Linked DNA regions of Homo sapiens: region 2 is linked to region 1. Evidence: fine-mapped expression QTL. A gene starts in region 1. The other region holds a variant in brackets. All regions are shown on one strand. Distances are from middle to middle.

Evidence for each region. PIP is the estimated chance that this variant, and not a neighbour inherited with it, causes the effect.
Region 2: its variant is fine-mapped to the expression of B3GNT5 in blood mononuclear cells (TOPMed, PIP above 0.99). The same link has a PIP of 0.9 or more in monocytes, spinal cord, tibial artery and tibial nerve.

What each region holds. Positions count from the first base shown.
Region 1 is chr3:183,249,261-183,258,763 of GRCh38, forward strand. It overlaps B3GNT5 (UDP-GlcNAc:betaGal beta-1,3-N-acetylglucosaminyltransferase 5), which reads left to right and starts at 3,993. Exons shown (of 2, transcript NM_032047.5): 1 at 3,993-4,212. All of the region lies in intron 15 of MCF2L2 (MCF.2 cell line derived transforming sequence-like 2), which reads right to left. LOC124906310 (a long non-coding RNA gene) reads left to right here. Exons shown (of 3, transcript XR_007096189.1): 1 at 1-310; 2 at 1,524-1,605; 3 at 3,275-3,295. It also overlaps the pseudogene RNA5SP151.
Region 2 is chr3:183,207,388-183,216,890 of GRCh38, forward strand. It overlaps MCF2L2 (MCF.2 cell line derived transforming sequence-like 2), which reads right to left. Exons shown (of 30, transcript NM_015078.4): 22 at 8,582-8,707; 23 at 221-436. Among named protein-coding and RNA genes, the nearest start is that of B3GNT5, 41 kb to the right of the region's middle. The variant CT/C (reference allele first, on the strand shown) is at 5,296.

The DNA.
Region 1 (9,503 bases):
CTGCTGCTGGGAAAAGGAGAAGAAATGCTGAGACACTCACTGCCAGGGGCTGGTATCAGGCCATTTTCACAGGGGCTGTTGGAGGGTTGACAGCACAGCTCTACTGGACCAGGGAGGGTCCCAGCCAGCAGGGCCTGCCCCTCCGAAACTGTCCCTGTCCCTGTCCCTGAGAGGCCCCACTGAGTGTCAGATGGCACATAAGAGATTTCCTTATGCGTTGGTGTGAAGGAGATGATCAGTTCCAGGAGGCCCCTCCCCCATGCAGAAGAGAAGAAAATGGAAGAAACCGGGTTCTCAGAGTGGCCTGCGGGTGAGTGCCGCCTTGTGCTGTCAGTTCCCTTCACCTTCCAGTTCTGGGTGTACCTAGTGTGGTTTCATCAAACTGCTGAGGCCCTGGAATTGAGGGAGGATGCTGAAGGGTGCCAGGCCATAGAAGCAGTAGCAGGAGCTGCAGCAAAGAGCTAGTGTGTCTCCAGCGTCAGCTTTTGGGCCTTGGTGGCATCAAAGGAGACGTACACAGGGCCACTGTACTACGGATGGGATTCTTGGAACAAAAGTTTGAATAATTGATGAGTGTGGAAGTGCTATGCAAAAATTCAATTCAACCTGCAGTTACCAGGCATTCATTCTGTGACAGGCATTATTGTGAGGGTGGCAAGGAGACGGGGAGTCTCTGAGAGACTCAGAGAAGAGCAGGGCATGGTGTCCACCCACAAGAGATCTGAAGACTTTCAAAGTAGTTGGGAAAACAGACATACAACTTTTTTCCCCTCCCCACAGCTAGTTGAGGCAAAAGACATATAACTTATACAGTGACAAAATACTACTGACTGTTACTGACACATAACAGCCTGGGCTGGGTCACTGGTGAGAAAAAGGAGGATTCTTGCTTTTGGGGCATTCAAGTCCTGTCCATTAACCATTTCCCAATCCCATATTTATACATCCCATTTTAGACATATTAAGCTGAAGATTGATGTGACATACCCAAAGACACTTAAGGTTGAAGCTGAGAATCTGGGCTAGAAATATAAATCAGGATGGGCTGGGAGCGGTGGTTCACGCCTGTAGTCCCAGCACTTTGGGAGGCCGAGGCGGGCGGATCACTTGAAGTCAGGAGTTCAAGACCTGCCTGGCCAACATGGTGAAACCCCATCTCCACCAAAAATATAAAAAATTAGCCAGGTGTGGTGGTGCATGACTGTAATCCCAGCTACTCGGGAGGCTGAGGCAGGAGAGTCACTTGAACCCGGGAGGCAGAGGTTACAGTGAAAGGAGATCGTGCCACTGCACTCCAGCCTGGGTGACAGAGCGATACTTCGTTTCAAAAAAAGAAAAAAAAAAAAAAGAAAGAAATGTAAGTCAAGATTAAAGACAATGGGTGAGATCAGCAAGGAGCATGTGTGCGGAGAAGAGAACACCAAGGAAGGCTGCGTGTGGTGGGAGGTGGCCGGGGGGCAGAGAAAGAGGCGGCGGAGCCAAGGAGATAGGGCATCGTCTGAATGGTGATGCTGTATCAACAGATGTGAAATTCCCAGAGGTGTGAAACACAGCAGATCCTTTACAGCACGATGACAGGACACAGCATGAGCCTACCTCTGCCAGGTGAGAGGAGCTTTCTGCAACCTGTGATGGGCTCAAGGATGCTGACCATTCATCCGCCCATTGGGATAGCCCAGGCTCTGAGCTCAGCACTCCACCCGTCACTGCGATTGCACTAATCCTCACCCACCCTTGCAGGCAGGTATTACTGTGGGCACAGAGAAGTTTGCTAACTTGCCAGAGATCCTGTGTAGGAAGCCAGGTCAGGAAACAACCAGAGTCTCTCTAACAGCCCAGGCCTTGAATGAACACCGGCCTGCTTCAGAATACATGGCCCGTGATGTGTTTGAATTCACAGATTCACTGGACAGGTTCCCTATAGGGCCTGTGAGGAAATCTGGTCTAACAGAATCCAGAAAGACAAATTTCGCTAAACAGGTCAAGCCTGATACTGCTGCTACACTTCAGCTGTGTTAAGCCACTCGGTTATCAGACCTGCTTCTCCTTTCATGATTTTAGTAACACAGGCCTCTTCCTTGGGCCCCTGTTGCTCCCACCATCTCCCAGGTTCTCTTGTACTCAGGGTTTAGTCTCCCCTCCCCACTACTAATGATGCATGTGCCTTACTCTCTGATCATCTCTCCTAAATCTGCTACTCCTCTGCTCTTTCTGTGCCTTATCTATCCCTGCCGAGTCTAACATGCAGATTTTGGTCATTCCAAAGTCATGTATAGATCTAATCACAGGGCTCTCTGCTTACCAGCTGCTACTTGGATAAGGAAAGCATGCCAACACGGTCCTCCTTCTTCATGCTGGCCAAGTCAGCATCATTATTATTACCTAAGTTTATTTCTAACACATCTCAATATCTTCATGCACTCCCTCTTGATAAAAGTAACTGAGCATAGCACCATCAATACCATCAAATCTGTCATTCTCTTCCCCTCTCTCTGGGTGGGACAGGAAGCCAGGCTGCTCTAGGAAATCTTCCCTAACAAGCAAAGGGGACTTGCCTGTCCTCTCGCATGTGTGATCTGAGCTTGTGTGGATCCCAGAGTGGGCATTCTGGACTACTTGACCTTGCCTATCTCTCCTTCACACCCTCTCATCTCTCCCTCCTACCACCAAAAAACTTGCATCGTATTTCCAATCTCCAGACATACTTTTGAAACCATTTATCTATCTGGTGTGTTTATCTGTATCTAGTATGATGTGAATATGTGATTTGTATGTGTGTCTACCACTGTTTTGGTCAGTTTGTATTTCTCGTGGGTACAGTTCTATGTGCTCATGTATGTGGAACATATGTATACTGACACATGGACCTAGCTCCAAATGATCTGAAAGGAATATAATTGTAATTGAATATTTGCACAGATATACAACATACACATGTGATGGCTGGGGGAAATGCATGTGGGATTTCAGTCAGCATTTTATTAGAGAAGGTATGTCATTAGTGCTGTATTAACAATGAATCAGCTTATTTGTGGGTCACTGTCAATGACTCCTTTGCAAATCACACATGTAAATATTTCTGTCTGTGGTCTGATGAACATGCAGTGCCACAGTCTGGGAGATGCTGAGCCATGCCCTGTGTAGGCAGCATATGAAAAGAACTGCATGATTTAAAAGATGCTGACCAGCTTAAGGAAAGCAATTTAAAAACTTCCTAAAAATCTAGTTTGAATGAACAACAGTTTTCATTTTGTGTGTGTGTTTTTTCTTTTAGAGATGGGGTCTTGCTATGTTGGCCACGCTGGTCTCTAACTCCTGGGATCAAGCAATCCTCCTGCGGCTCAGCCTCCCAAAGTGATGGGATTACAGGTGTGAGCCACCGTGTCTGCTGGCCCCACTGTTTTAAACCCTGATTCGACAATCATACATTTAACTCATTACCTGTCTTGTTCCTTTTACGACAAACTCAAAGCTTTTATTTTACTAAAGTATTTGGGTTAATCTTTTGCTTTTCTGTCATGTTCTGAAATATGTACAATAACAGAATCGCTCAAAATATTATCTCCGTTAAATGTTTTGTGGCTTTAGGGAGAGGTCTAACAACATGCGGGAAACAAGAAATCAAGCGCATCCAGGATTCATTTATAATCTCTCTCGTTGAGTAGAAGTCCGCATCTCTCGATATTGTCTGGTTACCTGCATGAAGTATTCTAAAGGAGGAAAATAGCTCAAAGAGGACATTCATGTGCACTCTGGCTTCCAGTTGGCCATTTGAGTAAGTGATCGCAATTAACTGACGAGCGGCAGGGAAACACTTCCTGGAATTCTCATCTACAGACAAGAACAAACTGGGGCGGGGCCCATCACCTTCACCTACGCGCCGGGAGGGTGGCGGCTGGCGGGCGGGGCCGGGCTCGGGCCGTGACGCCGAGAGTGCGGGGCGCGCGGCTGGGAGCCTCGCGCCCCCGCCCGGGCCCGCCCCCATCCCGCCCGCATACAGCCCGCATCCCGCCGGGGAAGCGAGCCCAGTCCAGCGCTGCCCGTCCAGTCCTCGCCCAAGATTTAAAGCCCGCAAGTTTTGTTCTTGAGACCAGCGACTTTAGCTCCGATGCGGGAAGGAAAGCCGACCTCCGATTTGGACATTTAAAGAGCTGGGCTTGAACTTCGTGAGTTTCGCTCTAAACTGCCCTTGAAATGAAGCTGGACTTGGAGGTAAAGTCACTGGGAAGCTGGCCTGGGGCGGGGTTTCCCCCTCTTCTCGTATTTTAGAAACGGACAGCGGCAGTGCAGCCCTAGTTTGCTGTAAGTTTCCTTACTTTGTTACTGAGGCCCCCAGAGCTCCACGCATAAGTGGTGTGACCAGAAACCTTTTAACAAGACCCGCCTGAGCCTGCGTTAGAGCTCCCGCTCGGAAAGTAAAAGACCATCCTAATCCGCGGCGCTGCGGAACCGGTGTCCCGTGTGGGAGGAACCGCGGCGTTCCCTGGGCGTAGGGCCCGCGAGGCCAGCACAGTCCGCCTCTTGGCGGAGCGCCCTGGGCCGGTGGTTCCGCGCGGAGTTAGTCTGTGGTCAGTTACGTGGTGAAAACACGGCTGTGCCGCGGCCGCATCTTTCCGCGGCCGAGGCCTCTCTGGGTGGGAGTGTTGGCTTCCTTTCCGGATCGCTAAATGGGGAAAGTTCTGGCCGCTCGGCGGGATACGTCTCCAGGCCACGGATGGTTCGTTCTCCGTGCCGCGGCCCCGAGCTGGGCTCCCTGGGTCTCCAGCGCGGGCTCCCGGCATTGGGGGCTGCGGGCCGGCCCCTCCGCCCCGCCCCCGCCCCGCCGCGCCTCCTCGGCCGAGCGGCTCGCGGTCTCCGGCGCGGGAGGCTCCGAGTCTGCCCACTCCGGGCCGAGCGAGGTCTCTGGAGGAGAAGAGTGGCGAGGAGGTGAGGGCACGCCGGCCCTCGCCCGGCGGGTGGCGCCAGGACTTCAGGTGGGAACGCGCGCTTGGGCCGGGGGCGCGTGGCTGGCGTGGACACCGGATCGGGGCCCGCCGCCCTGGCCCGGACCGCGCACGGCCCAGCGCCGGGAAGTCGGGAAGCCGGGGAGGCCTCTCCCACCGCGGGCCCCGGCAGCCCGCCCTCTGAAAGCGCGGCGGAGAAGGAGGCTCGTCCCCTCCCCGGAACGCCTTTGTTCCCTCCGGCCTGCCCGCGCGGGTGGCCAGCGGCTGGGACCCAGGCCGGGCCGCCGCCCAGGTGCGGCAGGTAGGCTCGGGGGCCGGGCAGCTCCGGTTGGGGCGGCTTCCCGGGGCCTGCGGGTCCCCGTCCCTGAGGAGCTCCGGCTCCTCGGTGGCGGGACAGGCCCGTGCGCGGGAGCCGCGAGGCGAACGCCGCGCCCACCAATTCGGTTGCCGGCCGGGGGCCCCAGGCTTGCGGCCACCCGCCTCCGGCTGGAGGGCTGAATTCGAGTCGAAAGCCCGTGTCGGGCTGGAAAGAAGAAACCGCCAACCTGAGAACGCTTTCGGCGAGTTACTGGCGGGGGAAATGGGGACAGGGAAGTGGGCAGGCGGGGAGACTGCAGCCGCAGATCTCCCTGGCGGGGAGGTCGTGGCCACTCTTTCCTTTGACTCTGCCTCATTTCATTTTGAATCCTGATGTGACAGAGGCAATTGCTTGCTTGGATACCATATAGGTAAAAGTAACAGTTTTCAACTCGACTCTTGACTACACCCTGTACATTCTTGGCCGGTGTTGGTTTTCTTAGGTTATGGATCATGTTAAAGGTACACCGATGTGGTAACCGCACAGTGGCCGATGGTGGCCTGAGGCTCATATTTATGGTAATTATCTGATGAAAGTACATCCATCAGAATTGGATTTGTGCGTCTGTGCCTTTATTTTGGGAAACCTTGCCTGTTCCCTGTGGGGGATGGGAGAGGAATGTGAAAAGCCGAAGTTGACCCAGAAAAGGATGATTGAAGGTAGTTGTATTAAGTGGTGGCACCGAAATGATTCCACCCTGAACTTTCTGAAAGGGTGATTAGTGATCAGCAGCAGACGTTATAACTTTCTCAAAATAAATTTATGGTAGATTTTCTATCTGGTCACAAGTGAGGAGGTGAAAGCTGCTTTTTGGGGCCAACTCTTTGCTTTTAAAGCAAGCTAAACGCAATACCAGAAAGGTTTCCATTCTGTACTTAACCTGCTTGTCCTTCTCACTCTTCCTTATCCTCCCGCACACGCTCTGAGCATTGACTGAGCACTCTGAGGAGGAGGCTGACTCAGGCTGACCCTTCCCGGCCCTGCAAGGCTCTAAGGTAGAACCAGTGTTATCACAGGAAAGGCCCAAGCCAAAGCTCAGAGCAGCTGTTCCTGAGAAAGTGGGAGATGAGGATGAGTAGGAGGTAGAGATGCTTATAACTGCTCTGCCCAGAGAAAACTCAGAAGGTGCAGAAGAGTTTTCAAAATAAAGTGCAGGCCCCATCAAGTAAAAAATGAAACATTGTATTTCATTAAAATGGTGATCAGTTTTCTCTTTTCATAAAAGACATTCAAATGGTGAGATTGTAAAAAAAAAAAAAAAGAAAAAGAAAACTTTCTAATTCTCAAAAATAGAACAGCTTGAATAATAACTCATGGGTTTTGAAATGGGTCATCTTTTAAAATGGGTCACTTTGGCTAGAATCATTGCACTTGGTGACTTTCACATTGTAAAGGGTCCAGTTCTTTCTGAGGCCCAATTGCACTAGAATCTGCATTTCAGAACACAGGAGGTATCAGGAAGAAACTGGGAGAAATTCAGAGGGAAATTGTCTCTTCTCAGAGTAACAAAATGTCCCCTATTCAGGGGGAATTTTATATATGCTGAAGTAAATAGATCTCAGCTTTGAATTTTTATAATACATTATGCCTTTTCTGAAATATTTCCATAGCCATTATTTTAATGCATTGTTAGAATAACCTTGTAAGGAGAGGAATTCATTGTATCTGTGTTCCAGAAACTGAGGCACAGTAAATTACAAGAGCTCTGCCCTTTGATATCGAATCTCTGTGAGCGAAGATGTAACCAGAACAGTGTAAATCTAGAATTACTTTCCTTACGGTATGCAATATCTAATTATTATGTATTAGTTTACATATATATAGGGGATGTAAGAATCTTTATATTTAAAGGATAAGAAACTTGATCAGGTGAGATACAAGATTTGAATAAAAAAGCGATTTTTTAGAAACATTTTAATTCTACAAATTCAGTTGCTGGCTTTGATATGTAACTTATTCAGATTTCTCTTCCATAGAAGGCTTTAACACTAGAAGCCAGTTCTCTACAAAAGAGAATGTTCTACCAAGTGTGTAGGCAACAAAGCCCAAAAGTTCAAGTTCAAAATACTGTTCTACAGCCTAAGATCCACCTAATATTTCAGATTTGACTCTTTTGCTCCTTTCCTATAACTTCCTATAACTTTTTCATAGTGCTCTAAGCAAAGTAAGTTCAAGGATGGACTCACCTCAAGTTTCCTTCTCTTACTTTAGAGGACCATATAATCTTATACCTGTGTCATCCTAATTGAAATGTATTTTAAGTGCTTGTGGGAACAAGAATAACGGAAGACCGTTATTCCATTAATGGAATAATGGGGAACATGAGAAGGACCATATTCAGTCAATTAGGGATGATACTTCTGCCTCAACAGTATTTGCGATGTGTTAAATGGCCCTTAGCCATCAGATCAGTATTTTTAAAAACTCCTACCTAATTAATGTTTTTTGAGAAGAAGCATATTATGAGTATAGCTCAGTATTCTAAAAAGAAAAAAACCTGAAAAAAAAATCAGCCATCCATTAACTAACCCATCCTGGTAAAGCTACACAAACAGATTCTAGAGAAAGGAAATTTGCACAGATGGAACATCTAATCTGGACTGACATTGTCAACAAGTTATCTCAAATGATCCTGAGAAAACACTGGTACATGGTTTAGAGACAAGTCGAGCTCATGTGACTAGTAAATGGAGAGGCACAGTATACATCTACTTTTGTTGGCATTTAAACACTCTCGGCTTTTTTACTCTCTTTCACCACCATCAGGTCCAGATTCCAGCTTGCACTGGAATATTTATTGACCCTTTGATAGAAGAGCTACACCTGAAACATCTCTGAAGTCTTTTTAGCATCCTATCCTGCCCATGGCCTACTACACAGTATGTGATAAGTTAATGTTTGTTGAATTAGTTAAATATACGTATTAACCTACTTTCAGGGCTGCCCGCTGTAATGCCTAGAATAGGGCAGGCACTTAATAAATGGTAGTTAACTTAGACTAAATGTTGATCCACCAAGACAGAAACATGTTACATATACCTCTTGTTTTACACCATCTTCTACTTTTTGTACCTCTGTGTTATAAACCCTCTATCAAGTGTTGCTTCTAAAGACAATGTCCAGAATGGGACGTAGGAACTGCCACTGGGCAACAGGCAGACACTGGGTTATATCGTCATCCTGTTTCTGAATCCTGGTTTTTCTTATTATTATTCAACCACAGCTAAACTTTCTGATCTCCTTTTTTCCGTTTTTTCCCTTTACCCTAACTTCTAGCCAAACTAAGTGATTTGACATTTCCCCACTCAAGCCACAACTTTTTCTCTTATGTGCTTAAAAAAAATTCCTGCGTAGTCTCTCTTGGAATGTCTTATTCCTTGCTCCCTCCACTTCACCCTTTTTTTTTTTTTTTTTTTTTTTTTTTGAGACGGAGTCTCGCTCTGTTGCCCAGGCTGGAGTGCAATGGTGCCATCTCGGCTCACCGCAACCTCCGCCTCCTGGGTTCAAGCGATTCTCCTGCTTCAGCCTCCCGAGTAGCTGGGATTACAGGCATGCTCCACCACACCCAGCTAATTTTTGTGTTTTTAGTAGAGATGGGGTTTCACCATGTTAGCCAGGATGGTCTTGATCTCCCGACCTCCTGATCCGCCCGCCTCGGCCTCCCAAAGTGCTGGGATTACAGGCATGAGCCACCGCACCCGGCCCACTTCACCCTTTAAGCCAGTTGAAATGCTCCTTGCCCTACTCCTCCCTTCTCCTTTTCTTTCTCCCATCCAAGTACTAACCAGGCCCAACCCTGCTTAGCTTCTGAGATCAGCCAGGATCAGGTGCATTCAGCGGGGTATGGCTGTAGACTTCTCTTTCTGAGCTGTGTCTTCCTCCTTTCCTCCCCAAACCCACATTTGAATTCTGTTCTAGCTCCTGCTCATTTGCCACCTCTCCCACAAAGCCTTCCCCAGTTTCCATCTTCTCCCTGCTTCCCTCATCTCAGAGGAAAGCTCTTCATTCACAGAGCACCTGGTTTGGGGTCCATAGTTTGTTGTCCCTCAGTATCCTTGGGGAATTAGTCCCAGGACACCACCCCCCCGCCCCTGATATCCATGCATGCTCAAGTCCCTTATATAAAATGGTACAGCATTTATATTATAACCTATGCAATATTCCCATGTACTCTTTTTTTTTATTTTTATGTGTTTAGAGAT
Region 2 (9,503 bases), 42 kb before region 1:
TTTTTTCTCTAGTACAAAGGCACTCCTATGCCAGCCCTGGCCCATAAGCTCTGACCCTGGAGTCAGACAGACCCGGCTATGGATTCTAGCCCTGTGGTGTGGTATTTGGCAAGTTAACTTCACCTCTCTACACTGCAGCTTCCTCATCTGTAAAATAAGGAAAACGATCTCTCTCTTTTCTGCATAGGGCGACTCCCAGATGCAATAGGACTCCCTTTACCTTCATGGTCTTCTTGAAGCTGTAATGAGGAGATAATCCCTGGTCCCCAGGCTCCATTCGTATCTTACAGAACACTATTCCCCTTTCAAATAGGTAGATTTGCCTCTGGCTGGGTTTAAATCGAATCAAATCCTTCATTTTATAACGATCCTTGTGAATTGTCCAGACGCTGAAAGGGCCGTGCAGCAACAGCTTGCCTAGTTTTCCAATATCGTCCTTTTGGAAACACACATACAGGAAAAGAAGCTGTAAAATTACTTGACAGAGAAAGAAGCCTTTGTGGCCTGTTTTCAAATTTTATAAAGCATGCTTCTTTGAGGTTTACAATTCTAAAAGTGCTATTCAGGCTGGTCTGTCACTAAATCAAAACGACAATTTTTTGAGCTTCACTGAGCGTGGTGCCATTTAGTTATATAAGGAAATCAATTCAGCTATGAAAGGTAATGCTATACATAAAGAATGTTAGAAATGCTTGAGCTAGAGATACGGGGACTGTGATATTTTTGACTCAATTTTAACTAGCAGAATTCAATTTCCTCTGTGCTATGTTTGATACATGACAGTCTCCTTCAAAGGGACAAGAAATTAACATTTCAATTATGTCCAGTAGAGATAGAATTTTGGCTGCATTGCGGACCCATGAGCATCTGTGTGTTCCATCTGCATCCTAACTTCTGCTTCAGGTATATGAGGACCTGAGAAAATGAAGCTTGTTCTGAAAAGAGAAAGTTTACTGTGATCTAATCTTCACAACATTGTAATGGAAATAGTAACTGCATTCAACTCTGAGTTTTTCAGAGTGAGTCAACAGTGCCAAGATAATACCAAATGACAGATTTTTAAGAAGTCTGTTTGACTCTAGGCATAAACTGTGATGCCCCTGTCTCCACCAGCAAGGCTGCCTTTGTCATATGTCTGGTTGAAAGTCCAAATGAGATGACCCTGCCTTCTCTGAGCTCTCTTCAAAAGACAGTGGACCAAGATGAGCTGGGAGCGAGGCATTTTATCTGGTATTTTTCAAAACTTCGATTGCTTAAAGCAGATAAGAATTCATTTCCCTGAATAAAAACACCAAAAGGAACAAATTATTTGAAGGGGACCAAGACAAAGAAATCTCCCTAAGTGACCTCTAGCTGAGATCAATCCCTATGATTTCTGAGTTAATACTGGAAATATGTACTTCATTCATAATTGATTGGGCATTTTTATAATTTATTGTTTATATGTTGGGCAAACTCTAGGTATCTTTTTTAAAAAGGAATTGACTTTACTTCTGAAACATTAAAAGAAAAACTTCAAGAGCAATAAACTCTAGTCATTTCTATGGTGTCTATGGCGTTATTTCCTATGTTAATTTTCTATTTTCTTCTTTGGAAAATTTACATATGTAGACTGTGGTGAATAAAACCCTCAAACTCCCAGCCACGAGGCCTTCTTTCCTAAAAGCCAATGCTCCTGTTCTGTGTTAACAGTTCACCACATTCCAAAACAGAAGGGTGGATAGGTCCATGAGGACCCTGGAGAATTTTTTCACTCTATCTGCATCCATCAAGGACCCACTCAAATGTAATCACTACAGACCTTAGTGACTGCTTTTTCCTTTAAATCCATTCAATTCATAATCAATATCGACATAAATAGTGCAGGAAATATGTTTTAGTAAAGGCAACTGGTAGAAGTAGATACTTAATATTTGCCACATAAACAAATGTTATCAGCACAGGTTGAGCATCCATAATTTAAAAAATCTGAAATCCTCCAAAATCTGGAACTTTCTGAGAACCAGTATGACACTGGAGGTGAAAAATTCCATACCTGACCACATGTGATGGGTGGCAGTCAAAACACAGTCAAAATTTTGCTTCACGCACAAAATTATTTTTTATTTTTTATTTTTTTGAGACGGAGTCTTACTCTGTTGCCAAGGCTGCAGTAGAGTGGCACGACCTTGGCTCACCGCAACCTCTGTCTCCTGAGTTCAAGGGACTCTCCTGCCTCATCCTCCCGAGTAGCTTGGATTACAGGCGTGCATTACCATGCCCGGCTAATTTTTGTATTTTTAGTAGAGCCAGGGTTTCAGCATGTTGGCCAGGCTGGTCTCGAACTCCTGACCTCTGGTGATCTGCCCACCTCAGCCTCCCAAAGTGCTGGGATTACAGGCATAAGCCACTGCTCCCGGCCTTCATGCACTAAATTATTTAAAATATGTAAAATTACCTTCAGTCTATGTGTATAAGGTGTCATGAAACATAAATGAATTTCGTGTTTACACTTGGGTTCCATCTGCAACATAACTCAGTACGTATGCAAATACTCCAATCCTCCCCTAAAAAAAAAAAAACTCCAAAACACTTTTGGCCTCAAGCATTTTGGCTAAGGGATATTCAAACTTGTAGTTTCTATCTTACAATGTATTCACTCTCTACCTCATTTTAAACATTCGACGCATCTTACAGAAATATATACAGTATAGACAGATAGAAAATAACCGAGGGAATTAAGGTGAAGAAAAAATAAAGAAGTTGGGAGCTTGGCGCCTGCCTGTAGTCGCAACTACTTGGGAGGCTGAGGCAGGAGGATCACTTGAGTCCAGGAGTTTGAGGCCAGCCTGGGCAACATAGGGAGATCACCATCCCTAAATATAAAGACAATAAATCAGATGAACTGTTCCAGAAGGTGTAGAAGATAAAAGAAAAGATGAAGAGGTTATATGTAAAATGCATATAATAAAGCCATTTAAACTTGATGTAAACTTGGCTCTGACTTTCTAATAGCAATACAGAGGGAAACATGGTGAGTGGTACGATTTATTATGTCTGAAGACATACACAAACCGGTTGTTCAGGAAAAGCACAGCTATTCCTACTAAGACATAAGAAACATTTCTCCCAGTGATATGTTGTCACTGAGCAACATCCTCAACCACGCCCTATGATAGAAAGAGGAACATGTTTTAGGTAAAGCTGCTTGTAAGAACACATTTGGTCAGTGTGGAGGCTCAGCTGTCAAAGTAATTCTAGAAGAGGCTAGGATGATAGGGGAAGGGGGAATAAGTCGAGGTGTACACTCTCTAATGACTTGTGAAGATGGGGTGACGTGAGTTAAGGCATCCACAAGGCTATTGTAGAGGAAACAGCCCCAACCAGAAATGCTGAAGAGGCAGCCTCAGGCAGCAAGGTTTGTGCTTTATTACCTCTGAACTTTCCTCATCACCCCATCCACAGCCATGCTGCTGCACCTTCATAGGCAAGTAATCAGAGGATGTGAATCCAGAGAGGTACCAGCAGCTGACCATAGGGCCCCCAGCATAAAAACAATGTGCCAGGGTTGGGGGTTGGCAATGTGATCTCTCCCTGAACTGAAGAAAACAGGAGGAAGTGGTGACCAGCAGGAGACGGGGCTGTGAGATGCTTTAGGGGAAAGCAGGCAGTGGAATAAACGAGAAGGAAACAGAACTATGAAGAAGGTGAGTCATTAGAAATTATGAGGAAGAGGAAGAAACTGACGGAAGGGAAAAAAACAGTCAGTAGGTGGTAAGAGGGGGGGCGAGCAGGCATGTGGGTGCACTTGACATATACAGGCGGGTCACACAGGTAAGAACCCCGGCTCCCTCCCCAGGCCCAGGCCCCAGAGGTGCTGTGGATCCTGGGTTTGCTCAGTTCCCATCTCCGCGAACTTGGCTTTGCCATCGTGACTTCTTGAGAAGCTGCAGGTCAGCTTTCCAGTAAGCCCATTATTACTGGAAGTGACTCGGGGGGAGTCGCTGGGTCTTTCAAGTCTGGCAGAAACATATGGGCACATATCCTCTGGGTCATGTTGCACAAATGTTCTCAGGACCACACATATGACGGTATTGCCCATCTCCACGCCCAAGGTCCGATCTCCAGCGGGTGAGCACATGCCCTACACGGTGCTGACCAAGGGCAGGCACACACACTGTTCACTGTGCTGTGTGGAGCTGCTCCGCCTCCAACAGGAAGCTGCAGGGACATTCCCTGAGCAGGAGCAAGAATGACCTTTTCCGTCACGTGTACCTTTTCTTTCCAACTAGACTGTAGTTGATCTCAAGGTCGGAGACCACGTTGCACAACCTCTTTCAGATACGTGTTCACCAGTATTTATTTATTTATTGGCATTCCCTAGTATTTATTTATTTATTGGCATTTAGTGGTGCTTGGGAGTAGGGGACAGGAAACAAAATACTCATCACTGTGAGGGAATATTGATTTATCCAAGGAGTTCATTCAGCGACGCCCCTGTACTGGGTTGAATAGTGTTCCCCCAAAAACTCATGTCTATGAGACCCTCAAAATATGATCTTATTCGGAAAGAGGGTCTTTGCAGATACAATTGGTTAAGATGGGGTTGCCCTGGGTTAGGATGGGTCCAAATCCAATGACTGGTATCCTTATAAAAAAAGAAAACAAAGAAATGGAGACGCACGCTGAGGGAACAGCCATGCAAAGGCAGAGGCAGAAATTGGAGTGGCACAGCTGTCAGCCAAGGAACTCCAAGAATTGCCGGCAGTCACCAGAAGCTCAGACGAGGTAAGGAAGGATTCTTCCTGAGAGCCCTCAGAGGGAACGTGGGCCTGCTCTCACCTTGCCTTTGGACGTCTAGCCGTCAAAACTGTGAGGGAATAAATTTCTGTTGTTTTAAGTCACGTACTTTGTGGTTCCTTGCGACATCAGCCCTAGGAAACGAATATACTTCCAACTGTTTTCCACCAGTAACAAAGAAGTGTGGCCATGTCACACGGTGTGTGGAAGAACCTGATGGTTGTGAACTCAGAGATGGAACATAGCGGCTACCTCAAATGAGCGAGCGATAAGTTAGATGGCCTCCTCTGTACAAGAAGTGATAGCAAAATCAATTAGTAAATGCTACCACTTTCACACCTGGGCATTCTGCAGGTAAGAGCCCCGATACAAGGATTTCAAATGTGACTACATTGGCCAAATGAAGAGTCTGGCTGAGAGAGTGAATCTAGGGAAGCTGGCCTCAGCAAGAGCTTCTTTTGGGTGCCCGTGTTTCCATTCCAGGTAGTAAGAGTTAATATGACTGTCACAAACTTA[CT/C]GCACAAAGAAGCAGGAAACATCTGTATAAATGCGTCCACACAGAGCCTGAGTCCAGAAATGAAAAGCAGAAGCTGTGGGAGCCTGTGATTACAATAGTCAGGGGCAAAGAGGTATCTTCCTTTCCAGCTTGAGCAGGTCCCCATATAACGTACCACTAGGGCTGTTTATTCGGCATCTGTTGGGCGCCAGGCACAGTGCTTGGTGCCTTACCCATCATTTAATTCTCACTTACTCCCGGCAACCGCCTGTAATATAGGTATTGTGGGGGGGTGGGGGGGGTGGGGGGGTGGGGAATGAAGAAGATACTTTGCCTGGGTCACTAGGATTATTTACTTAGCCCTATCTCTGCAGCTAACACTGTGGTAAGGAAAGAGGAAACTGAAATAGAAATAAAATCCTGGCCCTAGCTCACAATGAACTTACAATACAAGTACATCCTTTAGTGGTTTATATAAATTTGTTCCAAAAAGGAAGACTGTTTCATTCAATCTTTACAAGTCAACTTTGGAACTTATCCCTGGCAAGTCAGAATTTAAATGCATCTCTAATATGCATTGGATTTGAAAAAAAAAAAAACTTTTGTTTTTTTTTTGCAAATAGATAGAAGTAAATTATAACTCAGTGTTCCACAAAACAAACTTGTTTGGAAAAGAATTTTAAACTTCTGTGATTAAATTAGACCCAGGACTAATTGAGTACACAGAAAAACAAGAAAATATAAATATCAGAAGGGATTTTTTTCTAGTTGCTTTCTAGTTGTTTAATTGTGATAATTTAATTATCACATTCAATTTCTTTCCTTTATAAAACCAGGTTAATATTAAATTTCAAGCAGAGAAACTAAGAGGTTAAACTGGACTCAGCCATGCATATAGCTGTAATTTATTACAGGTGATCATAAACACCTGTAATAAAACTCTACAAAATGGAGACAAAGAATCTCAGAATCATTTGAGCTGAGTTAGAGGCAGTTGTCAGTCAATTCTAATCAGAAACAGATAAAGAGTGGAATAGCACCCTGATAGGGAATGAACAAGAAATAGTCCAAGGTGACAGCCATGTAATCTTGAGTGAGTTAACTCTTCTTTCCATGGATCTTCTTTTGAATCAGAAGGTTGAAAATTCCAATATCTACTCCTCCATAATTCAACAGGATTATACAAAACTGTCAGGAGAAATTAGCTGATGTATTAGATGTAAAAGTAAGTTAAGTCTTAGTAGAAAAGGTACCAAAAAGCATCTGGCAGAGGCACAATTCTGAGGACACATGGTCAAAAAAGGTCCTTTGCTTTTTGCGTGTAAAATCTCCAAATTCTGTAAGCTGGTTCATCCTATTTGCATGCAAACTGGCTGGGAATGAAATTAGGGCAGAATGTTATTTGCTCATGTTTTAACCATTCTTTTCTCACAGCCTCCTCCTCCTATGTTATTTACACTGTTTCCTGCCCTGTGTATTGTTTCCAGGACATTCATTAGATTCAGGGAAATGAAATTTAATAGGGATGTCTAATACGTAATTCAAGATTTAAAAAGGAACAGAAAGATGCCCTGGATTGACCTAACAAATTGTTCCCTTGACTTTCCTCAGGCGAAGAAAGAAGAATTATTACCAAGAAAATGATCCTTATACACACCCTAACCCTACTCTGCAGTTTATGCATATCCTCTTGAATCATGCATCAGTTGTCATCAGAGACACCTTGGAGTCCCAGGGGACAGTAACAGCATCATGGCTGGGATCACAGCAAACCCCATGGGGCTAAGTTTCTGAGATCCAGGCCCAAGAAATACCAGCGTGGGAAGTAAAAATAACTCATTTTTCGGACCTTAATAACTTTCATGGTTTGATTTATGACAAGGAAAGAAAAGTCATTTCCTCTACCAAGACCTCAATACATGGTATGTTCAAAACCAAATAAAAATGAAAAGAAAAAAAAAGAGAAGGAAAAAGTATAATATAATCACAAGTGACAAAAACGCAGAAGAGGGGGTCACAGAGATGTGATGTAAGAAAAACTTGGCCGGGCACGATGGCTCTCACCTGTAATCCCAGCACTTTGGGAGGCGGAGATGGGTGGATCACGAGGTCAGGAGTTCGAGACCAGCCTGACCAACATGGAGAAGCCCCGTCTCTACTAAAAATACAAAAAAAAAAAAAAATTAGCAAGGTGTGGTGGCAAGTGCCTGTAGTCCCAGCTACTCAGGAGGCTGGGACAGGAGAATCGCTTGAACCTGGCGGGCAGAGGTTGCAGTGAGCTGAGATCATGCCATTACACTCCAGCCTGGGCGACAGAGCAAGACTCTGTCTCAAAAACAAACAAACAAAAAGAAGAAGAACCCAACCTGCCATTGCTGGTTTGTGCTTTATTACCTCTGCTCATAGAAGCCATGAGCCATGGAGCGTGGGTGGCCTTTTTAAGCTGGAAAATTCCAGGAGACAGATGCTAGACTCCAAAAAGGAAAGGAAACACCTTGATTTTAGCCCATGAGACTGTGTTGAACTTCTGACCTTGGAACTTCAAAATAATAATAATAATGAATTTGTGCTGCTCTAAGCCACCAAGCTTATGGTAATTTATTATGACAGTGAAATAAAACAAACACATCTGAATAAAAATCTAGAGTACTTCAAAGTAAAAAACAAAACAAGTCGAATATTAACTATGCTCCAGTCTCAAAGAGATCATACAGTTATAGGGGATGTTTTGCCTGGAATGCCTGGGACCAGCCTGCTCCGGATTAACACTGACGCTGGAGCTCAACTCCCCAGCATTGGCCTCTAACTGCATCTCTTGGGTTTTCTTTAGACTATTTGGATTAATGCATGTACACTATATACTTTTGGGGCCTCTTCTGGGATCTGTGATATAAAATTGGGGCAAGAATATAGGACCTGTTTCCAAAATACTTTTCTTAGAGAAACTCTGAAACAAGAAGACAAATCTTTTACTATTTTAATAGTGCCATGAGTTAGAAAATAAATTGCTCCTCCAGGACTTTTCCTCTGCCCATATATGTTCTGGCCCTTGACTTTCTGGTTTGTCCAGACAGTGGGTCAGTCCCACATTCAGAACCCTGAGGAATAAATCCAAGATTCCTGAAGATGCCAAGGGACAGCTTGGAATCTTGTAGTGCGGGTTTACTGAGCAATTTAGGCGACTGTCCTCAGAGTCCAATTCCTTTACCATAGACGATCTCTCTGACTTTGCCAGAGCATTTCCTCACTGTGTAGTATTGCACCTGCCTTTTGTGTGAGATGCTCTAACACTACTATGGAACATACCGGACATTCAGTCACTGCTGCTAGGTCCACAGCCAACTCACAGGACTTGATCAAATCCTCTATCACTGCCAAAGCTTGTTGTAGTTCAGTTGAGAATGCTGAATCTTTGGTTCTCTTTGGCCCATCCTGTGGAAAACAAATGCCTTGTTGGAAATCAAAAGTATACCATCTGCAAAGTGAAGAAGGAAAACAGGACAGAGATGAGGAGCCAGGGATCCAGCCAACCCTGACTGAGAAGGGTGGATATTGATCTGTCTCCCTGCTCCCAAAGCATGGTGGCTAAAGATGCTTACTGATTTAGGTATACGGCATAGAGACAAGCAAAATCATCTACCTCTGTGCATTGTACTAGTGACGAATGAAGTTCATAAATCATGGAAATTATATTCCTGCTACATAAGAAACATATAGAATTCAGCTATATAGCTGAATTCTATATGTTTCTTATGTGTATATATATTATATAAATATTTATATAGTATATTAAATATTTATATATTAATATATAATTATATGTTTATATATTAATTATATATATTAAATATTTATATATTATATATTATATAAAATATAAGTATATATATTATATATATATATATATATATATATATATTTTTTTTTTTTTTTTTTTTTTTTTTTTTTTTTTTTGAGAGCGAGAGAGAGTTTCACTCTGTCACCCAGGCTGGAGTGCAGAGGCACGATCTCGGCTCGCTGCAACCTCTGCCTCCTGGATTCAAGCAATTCTCCTGTCTCAGCCTCCCGAGTAGCTGGGATTACAGGTGTGCGCCACCATGCCTGGCTAATTTTTGTATTTTTAGTAGAGACGGAGTTTCGCCATGTTGACCAGGCTGTTCTCAAACTCCTAACCTCAGGTGATCCACCCACCTTGGCCTCCTAAAGTGCTGGGATTACAGGCGTAAGC